2 linked regions of the Homo sapiens genome follow. The protein of the gene in region 1 interacts with the protein of each later gene in a biochemical or structural test. Each region holds a gene or a part of one and is shown in the gene's direction. Other genes may lie near its edges.

Region 1 (3,750 bases):
TTGGAACCAACCCAAATGTCCATCAGTGATAGACTGGATTAAGAAAATGTGGCACTTATACACCATGGAATACTATGCAGCCATAACAAAAGATGAGTTCATGTCCTTTGTAGGGACATGGATGAAGCTGGAAACCATCATTCTGAGCAAACTATCGCAAGGACAGAAAACCAAACCCTGCATGTTCTCACTCATAGGTGACAATTGAACAATGAGAACACTTGGACACAGGGTAGGAAACACACACCGGGGCCTGTCGTGGGGAGCAGGGAGGGATAGCATTAGGAGATATACCTAATGTAAATGATGAGTTAACGAGTGCAGCACACCAACGTGGCACTTACATACATATGTAACAAACCTGCACGTTGTGCACATGTACCCTAGAACTTAAAGTATAATAATAATTAAAAAAAAAAACAAATTAGCTGGATGTGGTGGCGGGTGCCGCTAATCCCAGCTACTTGGGAGGCTGAGGCAGGAGAAATGCTTGAACCTGGGAGGCAGAGGTTGCAGTGAGCTGAGATTGTGCCATTGCACTCCAGCCTGGGTGACAAGAGGGAGACTCTGTCTCGGGGGAAAAAAAAAAAAAAAAAAAGAACCTACTTATATATAAAAAAATTGACAAAGGAGATCGGGCGTGGTGGCTCACACCTTTAATCCCAGCACTTTGGGAGGCCAAGGCAGGCGGATCATGAGGTCAGGAGTTCAAGACCGGCCTGGCCAACATGGTGAAACCCTGTCTCTACTAAAAATACAAAAATTAGCTGGGTGTGGTGGCAGGCACCTGTAATCGCAGCTACTTGGGAACCTGAGGTAGAGAATTGCTTGAATGCGGGAGGTGGAGGTTCCAATGAGCTAAGATTGTGCTGCTGCACTCCAGCCTGGGCAACAGAGCAAGACTCCGTGCCAAAAAACAAACAAAAAAAAATTGACAAAGGGATAAGAAACTTGCAGAATTAGCCAGGCAGATTGGGAAGAGGAGGAAATATAACTTTTAGAAATTAAAAAAATGAAACTGAAGTCCAGTATACTCATTAAATAGATTAGACATAGATTAAATACGGTGATTGGGAAGAAAGGTCTAAAGAAATTGTGCTGAATGCAGCGCAAAGACAGGTAGAAAATATGAATGAGAATTTAAGAAACATGGAAGACTGGGAGGGTATAATATGCCCTTAATTGAAATTCCTGGAGATAACAGAGGCAATGTGCTAGATGCAACGTTAGAGAAGATAATGGCTAAAAAAGTTTCTAGAACACATGCAAAATATCGGTCTTCAGAAAGCCTAATAAATTCCAAATAAGTCAAATTAAATCCCTACTTGGATTAAAACATAGTAAATTGCAGTATATACTTATAAAATATAGTTAATATAAAAGCAGCCAAAGAAAGAAATATCGATTATCTAAAAGGCAACAGCAGTTACACTGAATTGGTTTGCCAACAGCAATACTGAAGGGCAAGATAGATATCAGTGTCAAACTAGAATTCGGTTCCCAGCAAATACCTCTCAACAAATTATCTTTCCAGAATGACAGCAAAATAAAGATTTTTTTTTTTAATCTAGGGAAGCTACATGACATGCTGAAAAGATGTGTTAGGTTTCATATTTACTCCTCACTTGTAAAAGAAAACTAATAAACTAGGGTTTAGAAATAATAAGCTCTCAGAGCACAGAGAGCATGTTCACCATATAATCACATACATAGCAGGCACTCAGTAAAAATCTATGGGAATGTTCCTCCTGCCATGAGAGCAGCTGTCTGCCAGAAGCAGGCAGGCACTGTGGGTGGTAGTGAAATCCTAGAGGCATTCCTATTGAAGTGTGGAGCAAAACATGGTTGCCCAGTGTTACCACTATTGTCCAATGTGGCACCTGAAGTTCTACTCCAGAAAAAGAATGGTGAATACGAGAAGGAAAACATTACTAACTTTAAAATCAATGGCATCTCCTACATATATAACAAACTAATCACCTGAAAAACTATCAGAAGTAATATATACAGAAATTTGACCTAGTAAGAAATATGACATACCTCCTATCTAGGAGCTTAAAAACCATTCCTTTCTAAGGTTTTGTTCAAAATACCAATAGAATATAGCTATTAATATATTTCTTCAATATCCTAGTAACTACTGCTGGGATAAAGGAGAGCTAGGATGGCTTCTGCCCTCAGGGAGCTCTGGGCTGAGTGGTAAACGGGGTGGCGGACCTGTTACTGACTTTGTTGGCTGTAATGGGTATAAAGGAGCAAGTTGTTGGTTCTGAGACGTGTAGTTGGGGGAAGAGCCAGGAAATGCCTCATAGGGAGGTGAACCATAAATTGAATCTGAATTCATGATCAAAAGGCCATGAATTTAAAGAAAAGGTCCTCAGTGTGAATAGTCATCTTCAAATGGATAAGTCACGTGGTCATCTTTATATTTCATAAATAGAATGAAAGATGTTGAAAGGGGAAAATTCTGGCTGGGCACAGGGGCTCACGCCTGTAATCCTAGCATTTTGGGAGACTGTGGTGGGCAGATCACGAGGTCAGAAGTTCGAGACCAGCCTGGCCAACATGGTGAAACCCTGTCTCTACTAAAAATACAAAAATTAGCCGAGCATGGTGACGGGTGCCTATAGTCCCAGCTACTCAGGAAGCTGAGGCAGGAGAATCGCTTGAACCCAGGAGGCAGAGGTTGCAGTGAGCTGAGATCATGCCATTGCACTCCAGCCTGGATGGCAAGAACAAGACTCCATCTCAAAAAAAAAAAAAAAAAGAGGAAAATTTATCACTTGACAGATTGTGCTATAAGTTAAGATCAGGAGGCTTTTATTTCTTGGGGGTTAATCTTACTAAGTGCTTACATAAACCTATCTTATGAAGAGGTGTCTGAAGAAGTCTAATCAGTTCCAATCTGATTCTCCTAATAGGTTTAGTTGGTATAGTAGTTGACCGTGGTGTGCTATTAATTAACAAAGTCTTTTTATTTTTAACTTGAATTTTAAGCTCTGATAAAACAATATGATTAATCAGAGCACTTGAGACATGATCTAAAATTGATGATTTGGAACTTTAAAATTTTGTTACTCATCTCTGTTTTTCCTAAGTGAACGTCACAGTTGGAGACTCATTAATTCTCTTTCTGGGGACATCAGGAAGCACCACTCTGCAGTGGTTGGTGGTCTTCTGTATTAGTAAGGGTTCCCTAGAGGGACAGAACTAATAGGAGATATATATATATATATAAAGGGGAGTTTATTAAGTATTGACTTACATGATCGCAGGGTCCCACAATAGGCTGTCTGCAAGCTTGAGGAGCAAGGAGAGCCAGTCTGAGTCTCAAAACTGAAGAACTTGGAGTTCGATGTTTGAGGGCAGGAAGCAGCCAGCATTGGAGAAAGATGTAGGCTGGGAGTCAAGGCCACTCTTGCCTTTTCATATATTTCTGCCTGCTTTGTATTCGCTGGCAGCTGATGAGATTGTGCCCACCCAGATTAAGTGTGGGTCTGCCTTTCCCAGCCCACTGACTCAAATGTTAATCTCCTTTGGCAACACCCTCACAGGCATACCCAGGAACAATACTTTGCATCCTTCAATCCAATCAAGTTGACTTTAGACTACATCTCCCTGTGGTACTTGTATCTTTCTGTCATCTTGCCATAAGCTTTATTTCCTCTTGCAGCCCACTTGCTTCAACAATGTCCTTTTTGTTTTATGAGGAAGGCTTATCAATTTTACTTCAAATGATTTGTGATTAAC
Region 2 (3,750 bases), about 23 Mb from region 1:
TCTACTGTTACTTCCTGACTTTGTTTTCAACTCAGGGGATATAGGGATAGCAAGGGTATTGTGGGGATTTTCTACTATCTGGTCCCTTCTCACGGCAGACATCACTAATTGATTTCTACTGGTACAGGGTTGTTTAAAAATCCTTTTCTGTATTTAATTTTAGGGAGATAAACCAAAAATGCTGGCAGACACCATGAAATCATCCCACACAGACATTGTAGTCAGGCAACCTTGAGTTCAAATCCTGGTTTCTCTTAATTCTGAGCAAAGTGGATAAATGACTTTACTTCTAAGCCTTGGAGAAAATTATATCCTATCTCACAGGGTTGCAGGGAACATCTATAAAAGTGTCTAGCAGAAAGTAAATACTAAATGTTATTTCCTTTTAATATGGAATATCATACTGACATTTTTCTGTCTTGGTTTTCCCGTCTGTTAAATGGGCATAACAGATGACCTACCTTAGAAATGGTTCTGAGGAGTAAACCAGTTAATACATGTAAAGTGCTTAGTGCCTGACCCAAAATTAACACTCAATAGTAACTTTTATTATTAATACATCATCCTGGTACCTTGGGAAAAGCTAAAAAAGAAAATATTTTTTAGCAATCCTAAAGATTAAAAAAAATACAAAAATTCTGAGTAGCCACAAATGCTGAAGATGTGTATAGAACATATAAATGTCTCTGGCACACATGTCAGTTCATAAATCACTCTGTCATTCGTTTGATCCTCAGAACAATCTTGTAAGGTAGGCCTGGGAGATTCCATTTCCATGTTACTCATGGGGAAAGTGAGGCACAAAAGAGTTCAGTATCAAAGCCACTTTGTTAAATGCTCCTATTTCAAATTACAATCCAGGCTTTCTGGCTCCTAGACCATTTCTAGTGTCTTGCATGGTCCTTCTACCTATTTTTCACTTTCCAGAAAACTAGAGATCATTCCTTCACTATAGTAATTATCTACAGATAGACATAGAATGTGTCTAACAAACACAATAATCTACCAGAGGATTTCTGGAATCTTTTTAACCATGCAATGGCAGTAGACAACTGCCATCAATTTGTATTTATAACGCCAAATGAGAAGCTAGGTTTACTTGGCAAGTATAGATAATGATCTAGTGGCTCTAGAGTTATAAAGTAATCAGGTACGATTGTCACTCTTAAGAGTGACAGGTGCTTCAACATGATTTAAAATACTTCAGAGGTTTGTCTTTATCGTCTCTTGTTTACTGACAGCCCACAAGGCAGGGTGAGAGACCTCAGGGGAGAACAGGAACTTTACAAAGGAAAACAGAAGAATCAGCAAGAAAACCACAACATGCTCCCTGCCTCAGAAAACTCCAAAAACCACCTACTGAGAAGTCAGACTTGGTTTCAATTATCTTCCGAGCCAGGAAGATACAGGTGAGGCTTGTGAACTGAGACCAGGGAACAAGAGTTAAGCTAGGATGACTCTACGGGTGAACGTCCAGGAAGCCATGGATCTACCGCAGTCGTCAGAGCCCAGCGGATCCCTGGCAGAGTTAAATGCTCGTTCTGAACCAAATGTCCGCTTCCGAACCAATCGCTGGTGCTCACTCGCAGCCCCAGTCCCAAGCGTACTCCAGCGCCCAAGGGTCGCCCTGACTGAAAGAAGAGAATCAGGCCTGTAGTCATAGGGTGTAGGGATGCCTCCTAGAAGAGGGGAAAAGATCAAGATGCGGAGAGGCTGGATCCAGCCAGATACGCGACCCAAGGGGCTTGGGACACCCTCACCTCTTCCGCACAGAGCCCTCCCTCTCAGGACAGCGCCAGCCTCCGCCGCCGCTGGACCAGCCCTTCTATTCAGGCTGTGCAGCTTAGAGAAGGGGGCGGAAGGGAATAATCGTAGGGCGGAGAGAAAACACGAATAACGAGACCGCAGGGCATGCTGGAAGTCGTAGTTTCTTCTGCCTCTGCTGTCAGGCGCTGTCCCGACGAACCACAAGGCTTCTTGACTACAGCCCCCAGAAACCCCAAGCACCGTGCTAGGTCATTTCCTCTCCTTTCCGCGAGACCTTCCGCGGTTATCCAGCGAGTCACGTAGCAAGACTACAATTCCCATGAGGCTCAGCAAGGGCGATTTAGGGTCCAGGGAAGCAATGAGACGTGTTCTTTGTTTTCCTATGGGTGAGGAATGGTTGTATGAGCAGTTGGGTTTCGGGACGCTTTTTGGGGAGAACCCGATGGAGTCTGAAGGATCTCTAAATCAGGCGGAACCCACGGTGCGGCGAGTTGGGACGGAAGTAACCGGTGGGAGTGGGGAGGAGCCGGAAGTTAAGGAGGGGAGGGGGTGGAGGGAAAAGCAAGCCAGGAGGTGCTTGCGGCCGCTTCTAGTAGTTTCCAGGCGCTGCCGGGCGGCTGGCACTAAGCGGTCCTGAGGCTGTGGCTACGGCTGCTCCGGAGCTGGTGGCGCCGCGATAGGAGAGCCGATGGCCAAGTGGGGTGAGGGAGACCCACGCTGGATCGTGGAGGAGCGGGCGGACGCCACCAACGTCAACAACTGGCACTGGTGAGGGCCAGAAAAGCAGGCCGGCCTTGGGAGACCTGCGGCCGGGCCAGGGTTTCAGGGTTCCTAGAACCTCGGCCCGGACAGAGCTGGGGCTGAGGTAGCCCTGTCCGGAGATGGGGGTGGGTCCTTCCTGTGGCAGGGGTCCGTAGCCCCAGGCCTCTCCACTCCGCGGTCACCTTCTCAGTGTTTGAGGGGAGGGAGATGGACGTGGAGGGCTGCGCCCCAGAGGAGGGTTGTCAGAGAGACTAGGAGATAACGCCCTGGCTGCTGCATCCAGCCCGAGCAGGGAGGTGCTTATTACACGTGGCCAGAGGAGTCACTGAGACTGGAACCTCCTTTGATTGTGTTGGGAGATAGCTGTGAAAGGCCTAAGGCCAGGGGTCTGTAATTCCTATTTTGCGGCCTGCGGTAAAATTAAAAGTCATTCATAGGGGACCGCTGCAGCGGTCCCGCGGGAGATTGAGAACGTGTTGTGCAGGTGCTCAGAGCTCAGATAGCTGCGGCCTCTCACCCGGAACTATCAGGTCGGGTGTGTTGGAACTCCAGGTTGCCGAGCAGCCGTGGTTTTATAACCTGACCGTTCTTAAAATAACTGCCCTCCTTCATGAAATCTTCCCAAAGTAATATTAGTTTCCTTATTTTTGAATTCCACTGAACTTTTTTCGTAATGTTTGTATTGTACCGTTACTTTGTTGCAGCCTTTTTTGCTGTTGTTTTCTCTAATAGTTGATAAGTAGGAAGGCAGATAGTGATGTTTCTTTTCCATATCTCACTTTGTATTCTCTCTTCTTAACATGCAGAGTACTTGACCTAATTTTTGTTGTTTGTTTTGAAGCCCTGGACTTAACGTTTTTGTGGCCATCTAGGGGACAGTGAATGTGTAGGAAGTTTATAATGCAAGTGCGAATCTGATAGGTCAGAACACCGTGCCAATGAGGTCAGGGTTATTGGTTTAATCCTTTCTGGGCCTTTTAGCTAAGTACTATTCTTTCATGGTCCAGTCTGTGTTCCTGATCTCAGCAATATGTGCAGTTTTCCACTTGGTCAAATGGGGGCGCCATGTTAAAGTATCAAGTATTCCCCCGCACCATCATGCCGAGAAAGGAGAGCATAATTTTCCATTGAGTTTATACCATTTTCTACAGCAGCTGTCTTTGTTGACAGTGTGCAACCCCTTGTCTTCCTAAAAAAGAATGACATGTTTGTGGACATACT

The links. The genes of interacting proteins can lie anywhere in the genome.
Region 2: the proteins of GCH1 (region 1) and AHSA1 form a complex in vitro, tested with the Homo sapiens proteins (one study listed by BioGRID).

What each region holds. Positions count from the first base shown.
Region 1 is NC_000014.9:54,847,154-54,850,903, reverse strand, and holds part of GCH1 (GTP cyclohydrolase 1), read left to right. Parts: intron 1-3,750. UniProt on the Homo sapiens protein: Positively regulates nitric oxide synthesis in umbilical vein endothelial cells (HUVECs). May be involved in dopamine synthesis. May modify pain sensitivity and persistence.
Region 2 is NC_000014.9:77,455,735-77,459,484, forward strand, and holds the start of AHSA1 (activator of 90 kDa heat shock protein ATPase homolog 1), read left to right. Parts: upstream 1-2,358; 5' UTR 2,359-2,455; coding exon 2,456-2,535; intron 2,536-3,750. UniProt on the Homo sapiens protein: Acts as a co-chaperone of HSP90AA1. Activates the ATPase activity of HSP90AA1 leading to increase in its chaperone activity.